2 separate regions of the Homo sapiens genome follow, and region 1 is linked to region 2. A link means that fine-mapping ties the variant in region 2 to the expression of a gene that starts in the linked region. Tissue or cell type: whole blood. Region 2 holds a variant in brackets; the other region holds the start of a gene. All regions are shown on one strand. Distances are from middle to middle.

Region 1 (8,000 bases), 110 kb before region 2:
GAGAGAGAAGGAGGTGTACAGCATTGCAGAGAGATTAAAGAGTTTGGGGATTTGGCATATGAGATGCTCTGGGACAGTTGGAATGTGGCAAAGATTTGAGAGTGCAGAAGGGGATGTGAGAAGTGTTTCTAGCTTATTCATCAGTCTCTTTAAAGTTCCTACAGAGATACAAATAAAGAATAGCTTTCTTTTTAATATTTCTTTTCTTTTTTGTTGTTGTTGTTCGAGACGGAGTCTTGCTCTGTTGCCCAGGTAGAGTGCAATGGCAAAATCTTGGCTCACTGCAACCTCTGCCTCCTGGGTTCAAGTGATTCTCCTGCCTCAGCCTCCTGAGTAGTTGGGACTACAGGCGTGCACCACTACACCCGGCTTATTTTTGTATTTTTAGTAGAGATGGGGTTTCACTGTGTTGGCCAGGCTGGTCTTGAACTCCTGACCTAGTGATCTGCCTGCCTTGGCCTCCCAAATTGCTGGGATTACAGGCATAGGCCACTGAGCCCAGCCTTAATATTTATTTTCTAATTACTTTTTTGTTGCCAGACTATGCTTCTTTATAAGAAGTTCAATGCAGAAATGGAACTAGGAGTTGTCCCAGAATTTTTTAGGCTTGCCCATATAACAAATATTCAGAATTTTGTGTGCATGTGCCATGGATTTCTATAGAAAATTTGCAAAATATATATATAGAGAGGGAGGGATTTTATTTCTTACCCCATGACCAACTTCTCATTTTTGAGACTTCCTTTTCCTCCCCTCACTCAAAGGAATGGAATTTCTGCCAATGATGCCTTTTCATTATACAAACATCTGTTGACTCTGCTGTGTGACAAGCAAATGTGGACCTAACCTTAATGGACCCAAATGCTAATGGGTGAGATGCACATCTAACAAAACCTGAAAATAATGGCTTTAGTGCTGAAATGGAAGTAGAGGCAAGGCACCAGTCATACTCACAGAAAAGGAAGCACCTGCCTAGTTTCCACGGCCAGGGAAGGCTTCTGAGAAAAGCTGAGTCCTAAAGGATAAGTAGGGGTTTACTAGCAGGCAAAATAGAGGAAGGGATAGGGCATTTCTGGCAACAGAAATAGCATGTGCCAAGATGCAGGGAGAAAGCAGCACAGTCCCATCAGGAACCTGTTGTGAAGGTTGTAGGATATAAGGCTGCGACAGGCCCTAAGGTGAGAATGTGGACAGGTGACATCACAGAAGGCTTTGTATGCCATGCAGAGGAATTAAGGCATATATCCTGTAAGCAACCTGGAGGGGAAGATACTGAAGAATTATAGTAGGAAAGTGACTTGATCAACTCTCCATCTCAGCAATGTACTTCTGATGGGGATGGCTTCGAAGAGAGACTGGAGGTAGGAGGACAAAGTAGAAAGTATTGTAATTGCACAGAAAAAACCAAAGCATTTGTAAAATAAGACAGTGGCAAGAGGAAGAGAGAGGAGGGGTTTGGGCAAGGAGATAGTTTGGTGGTGAGAAGGAAAGGAAGAGGAACTTTAAATCAGATTGGGATAACAAAGATAAAAGGTTTTGGGATTATTCTTATATTCCTGATGTGGGCAACTGGTTTGTATTCCTCATTAAATGAAATGGAGAATATAGAAAGAGGAACAGGCTTTGGATGAAGGTATAGTACATAATTTGGGGATTATTAAACATAACTCCAAGGAACATCCAGCTAGAAAGCTCAATAACATAGGAGAGACATCAGGCCAAAATTATGTCCTCCTCATTACCCAACCTCCGCTACCAGTAGATGTAAGAAATACAAGGTATTAATGCCTGCAAATAGGCCATGCATGAATGTTAGAGTATTTTACAGACTTTGTTTTACCCAGTGATAAAATGTACTGGGATAGGCTCATGGTTAGCAATTGATGCATAAACTATTAATGGCGAGATGTCATTTTCCTAAGAAATTAACACTTTGCAAACTTGGTATGCAAACTTGTGTTAAGAGCTCTAAACTGGATTAATCTATCCTGGCCAAGCTATACCCCCACACTTTACTTTTCTCTCCTGAAAAAGAGGCTATTAGGACCAGTTGAAAAGCAATGAGGTATTAATGAAAGAGAGGTCTTAAAATCTAGTTTTTAGCTTTGTATAGAGTTTTGTTGGCACCTCCCAACACTGGCGATTAACCTACTGTGAGTTTTATAAGGGCCAGAGATGGAAGAACTAATTAAAAGGCAGCAGGCAAAATTCCTAGAGATTTTATTGTTTGAAAGAGGTTTTCCTATATAGGCTTAAGTATAAATACCAACCTATATAGGCTTAAATATAAATACCAACCATCGGAGGATGGTTGAGAGAGAGTTAGAAACAAAAAGACACAAAAAATTACTGTACTTGAATCTAGAGTTTATGCCAGAACCTACTTGTCTAAAATTAACCATAGTCTTGTTTCCAACCATTAATAACATGCTTCTCATTTTTCTTAGACTTGGCATCATGCATATTTAAATTTACATTTAAAAGTTCCTGGTAACCTTTGGCACAAGGGTTCCTGGTTTGGAGATAACTCACATGTTGGTGGATTCATGCCCAATCCCTCTCACTACTGCATTTCTATCTGCTGGTGGATCAAAGCTAGTTGCTCATTTTCAATCTTAAATCAATCCATTTTGTAATTTTCAGGTGTGAGTGAGTTGACATCAGGGTCCTTTTTGATGAAAGATTTCCTTGAAAAAATAAGCAAACTGTTCAAATCAAAACAAAGGGTGTTTTGGGACTGTCTCAGAACATTTCATAGAAATTAAATTCTGTACCTTCTAGGTTAACGTGCTGTGGTCCTCACGATGTGTTTGGAAGGCTCAACTGGAGAGTTATTCTCCATCAGTCCTAGATTTCTAACATTTCCTGTTAGTTTACTTGCTGGAGGATTAAGGCAAAACTGGATTAAAAAGGAGGAGTTGGGGAATTAACTGTTTCCTGGCAAGATTAGCTTTCCAGGCACTGATTCCTGAGAAGAGGTGTTTTTTGTTGTTGTTGTTTTTGTTTTTAACTCCATAATGTTGCCTGGACACTAGAACAGGATTCCCCTTCCCCCATCTCATGTTTAATCTGTAGCTTCCCCAAAGTACCTTGTGTTAGTACTAGGGGGAGAATGACTCACACGTTGAATAAATTGTTATTAAAGCATCTGGGCTCAATTGTGAACATACTAATAGTGAGGAATTGGAAAACCAAGTACTGGTGAGGGTTCGGCTGCTGACTGGCGAAATCACTTGCTGAATGTGAGGCCCAACATCCTCTAAAAATAATAAGAGTTAATATGTGCCGAATACGTCCTATATCCCCAGAACTATTATTAGCACCTTGTATACCATCTCATTTAATCCTCATATTTCCAATGTAGAGCATGACTATCATCAACTATGTTTTGCAGATGAGGAAACTGAGGCACATAGATGTTAAATAATTTGCCCAAGTTCATACAGTCATTAATGGCAATTTGGATTGAAATTCTGGCAGACAGAGACAGCTTGCAGGCTCTACCCTGGTGGGTTCTACGATATTACCTCCTAAGATGAAGGGAAGGGACTGGAGGATCATGAGGGTCCTTCAGCCCTACTAGTGTGTGTGGAATGGGGAGAGGAGTATTCAGTTTCTCTGTTGGGAATGTGCAGCATTCAGCACCACCTCATTCCTTCCCATCTATGAGAATCTTTTGGGAATAGTCCTCACTATTAGGCCTATAGGTAGCATTGCCAACTTGGTTTAGTTCCCGTGCCCCATAAGAATACTTATCAGGGCCATTCTTTTCTGAGCATGTGGGTTAAGTAAGATCTCAGTGGTAGTGGGACCTTGGAGAAATGAAGCCTCTGAAATGTTGGCCACAGAGAAAAATGCTGCAGTGAGAAGCTGCAAGCTGCAAGCTGCAAGCTCCCAGCTAGCTGGCTTGATGGGGACCACAGTAAATCAGGAGGAACAGTGGAGGCTGGTGTGGGATCTCGGGGGCCAGAACCTGGCCAGGGGATGTTGACCCAAAAAAAAACAGCAGCAGCAGTAGAAACAACAACAGCAAGAACAACAATAGCAACAAGCCAGGTTCAGGCTAAAAAAGCAGGCAGTGTGCCAGGAAGGGGGCCGACTGAGCAGTGTGTGGAAGCTGTCGTGGAGGTGACCGTGGGGGGATGAGAAAAGGGGAAGGAAGGAACAGACAGCACCAGAGGGACTTGAACAAAGGGAGAAGGGGGATTAAAGTCAAATCACTGTCAGCAGCCCAGGAGCAGACAAAACCACCAGAGTAAGCCCTGAAATGGAAATGAGAGGGAAAAGAAGCAAGCCGCTAACAGCTACCAAGAAGAGGAGGAAGTGGGAGATGCGCTGCTTCCTGTAGAAAGAACGTTGATTGAAGACAAAGCTGGGTGGGGACTAGTCCCTGGGCTGCAGCCGCTGCTACACATACTCACAACGCTGCCGCCGCGCTCCGTGGGCAACTCCTACTACTGCTGGGCTGGGCTGGGCTGGGCTGGGCTGCGCCGGAGCTCGCCTGCACAGATCAGCTCCGGAGAGGGGAAAACCACGCTCCTCGGACCAAGCCTCGGGAGCTAAGGTAAATGAAACGTTTTCCATGTTGCTCGTTTTTAATTGAGAAAAACGACCGTCGCTTGTGGTTTTAAGGTCCGATTTCTAAGGGATGATAGAGACATCGCTTCAGGACTAGGGGAAATGATTAGATTCTTTTGGAAGGGTCTTTGAGAATAACCACATTTATGACACATTTGATTTAAAAAAACCTCATCATCAGTGCTTAGATTTGATGACTAAACAGGCCAACATGCTAAATACAAGAAGCTGTTTGTATAGTTCTCTCGGAGGAAAACCAGGGCTGAGTCGAAATCCATCTGGGGCTGTGAAGCTGTGGTCTGGTCATCGGAGCCCGGCAGTCCCCTTGTTTTAGGGGAGTGAGTGGTGTAAAATATTAATTGCATTCTCTTTCTTACACATTGCACTGGGATATCTTCTGTTTTGCAAAAATAATGGCTGTGATTTGGCTTTTGGGGGAGTTAAATTCTTTTGTACTTAGATTTTGCCAACAAAGGCTTGAATTGCGTATGTGAGGGGCAGTATTTACCATTAAAAAACAGTGTCTTCCTCCCTCAGCTTGTGCAGCTGCTTTCAGGATAACCTCAGACACAGCTATCATTTGCCAGTAGGTCTTATCCTAAAGTTGCATCCTTGTTCAAAGGAGCGTGGCGGGTTTAAGGCCAGTAACTTGTCCAGAATCAGATACTAGCATATGCATGGATTTTATGTTTATATGCATTTTATTCACCTCTAGGTCAAGGTGCATGTTAGCCTCGGTGAGGGACAAAATAAAAAAGTGCAGCTGGGTTGTTTCCTTACGCGAATATCTGGTAGATAGACTGAAGTAGTAAAACCAGAACATGATTTTTATTCTTTGATTTTCTTGAGCAAAGGATGTTCTTAATGAGAGCCTGGGTCTATGACTTGTTCATATTTATGAATGATATGTAAAAGTACACTAAATAGGTCTAGCAGATGAGAACTGAGATTGTGAGATTCCTCTGACAGGATATATTAGGGAGTTTAATACCCTCATGCAGCACGATTTAAAGAATTAAGCTTTTTTAATCTTCAACAGAAAGTACAGTTAAGCAGTAAGTAGTCATTGATAAAAGGGTTTTTCTTCTAGAGTTTCTATAATGAAAGGAGATAATTTTTCAAAAGAAAGAGAAAAAACTGCTTATAGTGGAGTAAAAATTTAAAAAAAGTCAATATTTTGACACTCACAGATTCTTGAAACATAGGTTCTTAGATACCAAATATGCTAGTTGAGAGTGTATGTATGTATATGCCTCCTCCTTTATCATCGTTCTCACTTGTTAAGAGCTATAGGGCTATTTTTAATGCTATCTTTATGAAATCGATATGGCTTCTCAAAATCTGTGGAGTAGCAGCACATTTTGAGAGATGGGAAGCTTTTATAGCTACTAAAGAAAAAAAAAGTCTATTTCTCAGAGGTTTTTTGCTCATTAAAGTAAACCTGCACCATGCCTAAGAGACAAAGTACTGCTAGTATTGAAACCATGGAACTCCTTGAAGGATTCACTGAATTTAATCAAACTTGTGGGCAAAACAAGTCGTGACATGGATTTTGCAGTTCCACTTCCTATTTGCATCTTAAAGGGAAGTATGTAAAGATCATCTTCTTAGAGAAGAGACCTAGGATAGATCTTCGATCCAGAATGACCCAGTGGAGTTCTAGAATCAAGCTGTGCATCATGAAATGAAGTAAAAAGTTGGCAACCTGAGCTGCATGGATAAGGACAGGCTTACCCTTTGGTACTTACTCCTCTGCAGGCTGTATTCACTAGATAATGCCAACACCCTACTTTGTTTGGGGAGGCACAGACAATCTGCATTAGTCTTCTGTGTGTGTTTCACACATGAGTAAGAAAATGAAACCTTGCCCGACGGGCATAGTAGAGTCAAGAGGGCCTTGCTATCTTTCTGAAAACAACTAAGAGGTGCCTATTTTCTGCACAGCACAAAACATTTCTTAATCGTTAAATTCCAGCTTGAAGCAGAACATTAGTGAGTAACAGCAGATCAGTAACTATGATGGTAGAATGTTTAGGAAAAAGATGAATATGCTTCTACATTGTAAAATGAAACTATTTCCACTTATTCTGGCCATATGGAATATTGAAAGACTTAATGATTTTTCCTGGGGTATTCACTGGCTTTTGAGGAGTAGACCAACACAGAAATTTTAATTGTGCTTTTTTTTTTTTTTTCTGCCATATGGCCAATGGCTGAATGGAAACATGACTCCATTATTTCATTGCCAGCCTTGGGCCTCATATGGTGGACATGTAGTGAATGTGTTTGTTTGACTGACTTTGTTTAGCCTGCTTCAGAAAGCAGGCCCAACTTTTAAGTCTAAAAGCTGTATAGTCAAAGTAGAAAGCCTGTTCATAAAAGACTTCTGTGGGTAGGAGAAAACACTGTGGAGTGAAAAGAACGCAGGCTTTGGAGCCAGGCAGATCTGCCTTTGAAACCTATTACTGGTTCTTACTACTTACCTTGGTACATTAACTTAGGAACCTCAGTTTCCTCATTGTAAAGAAGGGCTAGTAATACATAATCAAAGTTGTTGTTTTGCTTTGTTTTTGCTTTTGTGTGCGGATAAGTGAGTGATTTCTACATAGAAGGTACTGAAATGTTATTTTTTTCTTCCTTGGTGGCATAAGGAAAAGTTAGCATATTCTTGGTCTTTACCACTGCCTCACAGGTTTAGGGAGACTTTTTTTATAGTGATAAAATATACATAACATAACATTTCCCATTTTAACTATTTTTTTAAGTATGCAGTTCTGTGGTAGCGAGTACATTGATGTGCTGTCATCACCACCGTCCATCCATAGAACTGTCTTTATCTTGCAAAACTGAAATTCTATACCCATTAATCAATACCTCCTCTTTCCCTCCTTCTCTCAGCTCCTGGAAACCCCCATTTTACTTCTGTCTCTATGAATGTGACCAAGTATCCCATATATGTGAAGTCATACAATATTTGTCCTTTTGTGACTGGCTTAATACACTTAGCATAATGTCTTTAAGATTCATCAATGTTGTAGCATGTGCTAGAATTTCCTTCCTGTTTAAGCTGAATAATATTCCATTGAATGTATAGACTATACTTTGTTTATTCTCTTTTGATGGACACTCGGGCCATGTTTTGGCTATTGTAAATAATACTGCTATGAACACGGGTGTACAAATATCTGTTAGAGTCCCTGCTTTTACTTCTTTTGGGAACCCAGAAGTGAAAATGATGGAACACAGTAATTATATATTTAATTTTTGAAGAATTGCCATACTGTTTTCCATAGCAGCTGCACTATTTTACATTCCCACCAGCAATGAACAAGGATTCCAACTTCTCCACATTCTCATCAATATTTATTTTGTTTTTTATTTATGTTTTTGATAATAGCCATTTTAAGAGGTATGAAGTGGTA
Region 2 (8,264 bases):
GGCTAGCCTGTGTGGAAAGCTTGCTATGTGCCAGACACTAAATGATTTACAGGGATTTTTTCATTTAACCCTTGTTACCAGGGCTGGGACCAGGGTGGGGCAATGAGATATCGGAGCACAAAAGTGAAGGAGGGCCGGGCACAGTGGCTCACGTCTGTAATCCCAGCACTTTCGGAAGCCGAGACAGGTGGATCACTTGAGTCCAGGAGTTCAAGACCAGCCTGGCCAACGTGGTGAAACCCTGTCTCTACCAAAAGTACAAAAAATTAGCCAGGCACCATGGCACACACCTGTAGTCCCAGCTACTAGGGTGGCTGAGGCAAGATAATTGCTTGAACCCAGGAGGCAGAGGTTGCAGTGAGCCAAGATCAAGCCACTGCACTCCAGCCTGGGCAACAGAGCGAGACTGCATCTCAAAAAAAAAAAAAAAAAAAAAAAAAAAACAAATGAAGGAGACAGCCACCTGCGGGGCTATGGAAGTGCAGGGTTGACACCTGCATGCCCCTGCCAGCGAGTGCCTCCTTCGGTTCTGCACCCTAAGTGCCTCACTCACCTTAACCTAGTCCCAGACTTGCTGGCAACAATCCTGTAAGGTCAGTGTCGTCAACTTTCTTCTTTGCAGATGAGGAAGCAGAAGCTTTTAGAGGCTGAGTATCTTGCTTCATGGAGCAAGGATTTGATGCCAGGACATTGGGCTCTAAAGCCTTGGGCCTTGACTGACTGTACCAGACTCCAGTGTTGGTTGTTTTTGTCTCCCTTTCCAGGTGTCCAAGGCAGCTGCAGATTTGATGGCCTACTGTGAAGCACATGCCAAGGAAGACCCCCTCCTGACCCCTGTTCCGGCTTCAGAAAACCCGTTTAGGGAGAAGAAGTTTTTCTGTGCCATCCTTTAAGTCTTTGAGAGGGGCCTGAAGAGCCTCCGGGCTCCTGGGACATTGATGTAGAGTTTTTAGTGAAGTGGGCACCTTTCTAGTCCACGGCATTTGAAGAGAGCGAGGAGAACCATTCTGGAAACTCTAGGCTATGCATGTTTAAAGATCTGGTCCCCTTTATGAGAATGCAAGCCGATCCACATCCTGACTTAAGAGATCTGATTCTGACGAACTGCCTGGAGGAGGGGAATATATAAAAATAAAATTGGTGTCACTTCTTTTCTGCTATCCCCCAGCCCCCCCCCCAAAATCCTCATGTTTCTGCTTCATATTTTGAAAAATAACAATTAAAACAGACAGCTGTACTGAGGTAAGATATGTGTGACCTTCTTGGAATGAATATTGTCTTTAGAATACCCTTTGATAAGCTGAGCTGTCCCGTGTAGATGCAATTCGGTTTAATGGCATTGATGTATAGTCACTGTGCCTTTCTTTTTCTTTCTTCCTTCTCCTCTACCCCTCCTTCCACCCCTCCCCATTAGAGTAGTGTGGAGATAAGGCTGGACTGGTCTATCAGATTGAACTCCAAGAATGATCACACAAAATGTTTAGGGAGATGTTCCCCGTGGTGTATCCTCATGGTAACAACGACAAAAAATGCCGGTTGTCTGTGTTCTCTTTTCACTATTCCTAACATGTGTACATGATAGCTTTGATTCTGCAAGTAAAAGTAAATCCTGTGTTGTGACTGGTGCTTTCATATATTTGTGACAATTTTTGAGTAATATTGCATGAAAATGTCCCTATGTTACATCCATTCAGAAGTTTTGTTGTTTTACTCTAAAGCTGGGAAAGGAAATGAGAGGGAAAAGACCCCGGAGAGGGAAGAAAATCTCAGTATTTTGAAAATTGAGATTACTTCAGAGCCTTAGCCACACCTAAAATACCTCCTAGTTAATAGTGGTATAAATGCCTCTTCAATACGTTTTCCAGAATCCAAAGCATTTTGGTTTATCCAGGACCCAGGGCAGCACAGCTGTCACCAAGCAGGAGAGTTAAGGATTCACCATGAGCTGGGAAATGCTTTTGCCATGAGTATGAGCAAATTCCCTCTTTCCCTGAATCATGGACATTCTAGATTAAAAGAACATTTTTTTGTGCTCTTAACAAGAAAACCATGGCCCTCCTTTGTTCAAGTATCAGAAGAAATAAACCCACAGCTCCAGAGAAGGTGACCATTCTCAGAACTCCAGCTATTCACTCTCCAGGGAGAAGGACCTCAAATCGCCACTCTTTGGGCGGCAGGTGCGGTCCCCACGGCCGGCTCTACGAGGAAGAGTTCTGGCTCTTTTGTCCACTGAGATGGTCTTGGTTTTTCACTTAACAAATTTTTTAATGGAATCTTTGTTTTTGTTCTCCATCTTGTTTGTTAGAGTCTCTCGGCCTTTATTTACAAATTCCTTGCAACTAGAGCGCTCCTTCCCCAAGATATGGTAGTGAGAGTAATTTTTCATTGTAGCTGTAGTCTCCATCAGTAACAGCAGGCCCTGGAAGACTTGATCACCTTTTTCTGTGTCATTTTCAGTCAAAGAGGGCCTCTCTTACATCTTGTTTGCTTTCAAATCCCCAAATATCATCTCCATCTCCCAATTAATTTTATTGTCTCTTTCCTCTCTATTCGCTTTCTCCTGTTTTTTTTTTAAAAAAAAAGCATGAAAAAGGAAGAGAAAAAGTTTGATATGCCAAGGACAGATTTTGAAACAGACTTGGTAAATGTTTTCCTTAGCTCCTTCATGGGCATGCTGGTGAAAGAATAAATACATCCAATTAAAGCTCATGCTGGGGTCGGGGAGAAGAGGATACTGAAACATTTGTGAAATGTATGAATGCACTTCTGTAACCAGATACTTCTGTTCTTCTGTTCAAATTGTGGGGTTTTTGTTACAGTTAGGACGCCCATGAAGATTTAGGGGTGAAAAAAACAGCAGAGTATTTATTAAACTACAGCATTGTACAATTAGCTTAGTAACACTATGGAATAAGCTAAAACATATCACAGTTTTTACATGGGCCAAAACATGAATTGAGTATGTGGTCACATGAAAACACGGATGAATGAATAAAACACTCTTTGGTGGTGACTGAGGCATCATTAGAAGGCCCAGACGATTTCCACTATTCACAGCATTTCCTTTTCTCAGAAGGACTCTTTATATTTCCATGTAAATCTAGATCTTTGGAGCAATTAAGATGGAATTACAATTTCTAGGGAGCATTTTAAGGAAAATGTTTTGGCTTTTTCATAATTTTATGTCTTACAGTATGGAATTATAATACGAAAATCTTTATATGAGTTTTGGCTTCTTGGTATTTGTACTTATTCAGGGGAAAAAGTCTTTCGATTACTTATGCCTCTATAGAGCTTAATTTCTTGAGAAATTCAACAGTCATTTTCACCAGCATAATTTTATCTTAAGGAATAACTAATAGGAAAAGTCAGCTTAATTATTTAAGGCCCTAGTTTCTACATATAATATATTCGATAGAAATGAAAATCTGCCGTGGAATTAACTAATAAGTAGTAACAATAAACTTCATATTTAGAATGCAAAGTCTATAAAGAATAATTTTACATGATCCTCAATATCAACTCCAGTTTAAAAAGTGTTATTTTTAAAACATTTGAAACCAAGTACTGTTTAATTTCAATCAGAAGATGCAAATA[C/A]ATACTTTGATCTATGTTTGATTTTGCTAATAATATTTGAAGGAGATTGCCTACCAAGGACAAAACAATAAATTTAAAAATCAAACGATTTCTCCATACGCTCATAGTCACATATGGAATTTTGAGAAAATAAAGCATGCTGTCTTTAGGAATTTTTATACTTCTTTGTCTTTCTTCCTTAATATTTGCTTCTAGCTGCTCTTGGCAATGATGAATTGTTATGTATGCATTAATGTTTTGCAGCCCAAAAGTTGTTCACATTTTTCCTATATAAGATCTGTGGAGTGTGTGTTTCAAAGAGAGAACTACAGAAATGTTAAAGCAGGAAAACCTGAATGTGATGTGCACATTTTCATCCCACATGGACAATGTATGTGTTTTAATAAATGGAATTTTCAGATTCATTTCATATGCAGTCAATTTCATTGTGACGGCCACTGATTCTGTGGTCAATTTGAGAAGGATCTGATGGTATGAATGGATGAGGAAATAGGAATCCATTGATTTTCTTTAGGATTTTGTTAATAGAGATGTCCGAAAGAAGAAAAAACTCACTTGACACTCTAAAAGCATTTCTTACTAGGTCTGTACATCTTGGGTACAGCCTTTGGGGACAGAGAAAGGTGGGGGCTGTGAGGAGAGCCCAGGGCTCTGATAGGGTGGAGTATGCAGACAGAGGAGCTGTATTTACACTTTCACTTGCTGCAGGTATGCCACAGTGGGCTTTTTCCCTTATGAAAAATAAAGACTGAACAACAGAAGTGCTGTTCTCTGTAGCTATCTGTGATTTAAAAGGAGTACAGGAGAAGCTAAGTCCTTAGAACTCTAGATGCAGCTGCTCCTTGGAGATCTTCTTAGTCGAGAAAGACTTCTGAATGTTCCTCAGATTATGCCAGTAACAGACCCTGTTAGTAAAGAAGGAAACACTGGATCTCCTGGGACTTGTGCCAGCAACAGCAGCATCTTTAAACCACGGATGAAGGGGGCCACTTGGAGTTTGCACACTAGTGCTCCACTGACATCAGTGTTTCTCAGACTGTGGTCCATGGACCACTTGCTCCAGGAGTATTAATACCTGGAATGCCTCTTTACAAAGCGGATCCTGAGCTACCCACGAACTCAGAATCCCTGGCAGTGACTCAAGAACGTGCATTCTGTTACATGCTATAGTCTGAGGACCACTACAGTATTTATGACAGCTAGCTTTTCATACTGCCAAAGGAAAGGCACAAACAACTCATAAATATTCTCGCTCTTCTTCCCACAGCCCCCAGAAGTGGCTGCCTAGGCATGAACATGTAACTGAAGGGTGAGAATCTAGCCAGCAACTAGACATGCTACACTGAGGAAGACGCAGCTGGGCTGTGACTCTGCTCCTGTTTTGTTGAGCCCCTGTGGGAGGACTGCCTCCAGTTCTCATTCTTTAATAAGCTGGTCACATTGTAGATGGCACTTAGAATGACAGAGGGAATTGGAGCTGGGTCAGCTCCAATCCACAAATTGCAAATAATTTGCCAAGGGAAATCCCTTTCCCTTCGGTTCTGCCCCAAATCTACATTTTCTTCTATTTAGAACCAGGAGACTCAGGCAGAATTTATTTTAATGAAGAAGGCCATGGGCTCCTGGGCCTTTCCTCAGCAAGAACTACTGCTGTTTCTCTCTGGAAGTCATAAGAAAAGCCGGGAGCCGGGTATTGCATCTCCACAATGAAGCAACAGAAAGACGGGGCCTGGGGAGCTCAGTCCACACTGTGCTCGAGCATTAGCATGCACTAGAGAACCAGAACTAGGCTCCAGCGCTCCCATGCGACCTTGGGCAAGTCCTTTGACCTCTCCTGCTTTAAAGTGGGTACAAGAATGCCTGATTCATTTATCTCACAAAATGGTTAAAAACAAATGAAAGAGGATGGGCACAGTGCTCACGCCTATAATCCCAGCGCTTTGGAAGGCTGAGGCAGGTGGATCACTTGAGGTCAGAAGTTCAGCCTGGCCAACACGGTGAAACCCTGTCTCTACTAAAAATACAAAAATTAGCCAAGTGTGGTGGTGGGCACCTGTAATCCCAGCTACTTGGAAGGCTGAGGCGTGAGAATTGCTTGAATCGGGGAAGCAGAGGTTGTAGTGAGCCAAGATCACGCCACTGCACTCCAGCCTGGGTGACAGAGCGTGATTCCATCTCAAAAAAAAAAAAAAAAGAAAAGAAAAATGAAAGAGGTAAAGGGGCATCACGAAGGCAGAGGTGGTAAAGAACCATTAGAAACTACTTGACGGCAACCTTCGAAGAAAGGAAACCGCTAGATAGCTCCTGCTCACCTCTTAACTCACCTCCTTTCTCTCTAGCCCCCAAATGCCCTGGTTGAGACCCTCAGTGTCTCATGTCTGAATTCCCATCACACCAGCTGGTATGGGCATTCTGATGCTCATCTCCTCCCACTTTCACCCAGTTGACCCTGAGTATTCATTAGTCAGGACTTCTTTGATTGCAAGTGACAGAAACCTAATGCCCCAAAATAGGTCCCACTTCAAGCCCAGCTGGATCCAGATGCTTAGAGGATGTCATGGAATGTCCCTGTCATCCCTTGGCTAGGCTATTCTCTGTGCTGGTTTAATTCTCAGACTCTTGCCCCGCAGCATCAAGATGGTGTCAGCAGGCCCAGGTTTATATCTCAACAGTTTAGTAATCAAGGAAGAAAGATAACAACAGCTCTAGCAGAAGCCTCTGGCTATATCCCTGGAACCCTTCCTAAGACACTATTGGCTAGATCTGGTTCCTGTGCTCGCCCACCCCTGGACCTAGGGATAGAGGTAGAGTCACTGGGCCATGTGGGCAGAACAGTGGTTCTAAGGAAATTGAAGTCCTTTTGCTACAGGAGGCAGGATTGAAAGTTAAAGGCAAAAAACAACTGATGCCAACCACATCTTAACAGATTTATTGATGTTACCTCATCTTTCACCATGTTCAGAAACCCAAGGTTCTCTGGTTCATGGTGCTCTTTGTCAACCACATCATGTCCAATCTCAACTACCTGGCTCTCAAGGCCCTTGAGAGGCCCCACTTGGCTAATCCCATCTTGCCATCCAAACCCTCTTTTCCAGTTCATCCTGTCTCCTTCAGTGTGCTGTGAGTTCATCCCACTTCCCTGTCTGCTGCTTTTTACATTTTTTTTAGACAGAGTCTCGCTCTGTTGCCCAGGTTGGAGAGCAGTGACGTGATCTCAGCTCACTGCAACCTCCACTTCTCGGATTCAAGTGATTCTCCTGCATCAGCCTCCCAAGTAGCTGGGATTACAGGCACCCACCACTATGCCTGGCTAGTCTCCCCTTTTGCTTCTGATGTTACCCCCTCTGGAATGTCATTACACAACTCCTTGAGTAACTAAACTTGCTTTTCTGTCAAGGTTTAGCTTGAATTCCACGAGGTCTATGAATGACTTCAGGAAATATGAACCTTTCTCCTCTCTCCACTCCTGTTGCCCTTGCTGTCAGTATTGTTGAGTATTTGACTGTGTTTGAGGCGTTGTGCTAGGGTAGAAGGCATGGCACCTGCCTTCCGGAGCTTGCGGTTTAATGGAGAAAATAGACAAGTGAATAGTCAGTTACCAAAGTGGTCAATTCTAGGACACAGAAGCTAAAGGGAGGGTAGAAGTGATGACCAGCCAGAGGAGGTGATGCTGGAGTTAATCATACTTAAATGATAATCTTTTTTTTTTTTTTTTGAGGCAGAGTTTCACTCTTGTTGCCCAGGCTGGAGTGCAGTGGCACAATCTCAGTTCACTGCAACCTCTGCCTCCCGGGTTCAAGGGATTCTCCTGCCTCAGACTCCTGAGTAGCTGGGATTATAGGTGCCTGCCACCACGCCTGGCTAATTTTTGTATTTTTGGTAGAGATAGGGTTTCACCATGTTGGCCAGGCTGGTCTCGAACTCCTGACCTCAGGTGATCCGCCCGCCTCGGCCTCCCAAAATGCTGGGATTACAGTCATTAGCCACTGCGTCCGTCCAAGAATCTTGTCTCTAGGGTAGTGTAACCTTTAGGAAGTAGACAACACTAGGTGGATGGGCTTCTCTTTAATCTTTCCCTCATTGTAGGGCAGCTGAGAATGAAGCTCTCCCCTGCAAAGGGGTGGGCGATTGGCTCTGCACACAAAACAATGGGCCAAAGCTGAGTGGAGGTCGTCACCTCTCCCCCTCCAACCTCTACTGGCTCCGTGTCTTCACAACATCATGGGGACATTGTCTTCAGCCAGCAGCCCTTTGGCCTGGGTGATACCACCATGCACCAACCTGGAAGTCAGATCTCGTGGGCTTCAGGCCCAGGGGCTGCAGGAAATACATTGCTGGCTGTATCACCTTAATTTTAGCCCCAGGGGAAGGGGCCCTTCCACTATCTACTGGGAACACTATCTCTAATTGCCCTTCCCTGTGTGTGCATTTGGCGATTTACATTTAGATATAAATTAACTACAACTTTCAATAAAATTAAAAATTTGGTTCCTCAGCTGAACCAGCCATGTTTTAAGTGCCCAAAGCCACATGCAGCTAATGGCTATTGTCTTTGGACAGCACAGATATAGAGAACAGTTCCATCACCGTGGAAGGTTCTATTAGACAGCGCTGCTCTAGCATAATGGCAACCTTTTTTCCATCACAAACAACTGACTGAATATGCC

What was found. PIP is the estimated chance that this variant, and not a neighbour inherited with it, causes the effect.
Region 1: it holds the start of GNG2, and the variant in region 2 is fine-mapped to the expression of GNG2 in whole blood (INTERVAL, PIP 0.99).

The regions. Positions count from the first base shown.
Region 1 is chr14:51,856,227-51,864,226 of GRCh38, forward strand. GNG2 (G protein subunit gamma 2) reads left to right here and starts at 4,386. Exons shown (of 4, transcript NM_053064.5): 1 at 4,386-4,564. RefSeq lists a silencer at 3,873-3,952 and enhancers at 4,005-4,506, 4,293-4,502.
Region 2 is chr14:51,965,795-51,974,058 of GRCh38, forward strand. It overlaps GNG2 (G protein subunit gamma 2), which reads left to right. Exons shown (of 4, transcript NM_053064.5): 4 at 765-4,001. The coding sequence ends at 893. Among named protein-coding and RNA genes, the nearest start is that of RTRAF, 20 kb to the right of the region's middle. The variant C/A (reference allele first, on the strand shown) is at 3,598.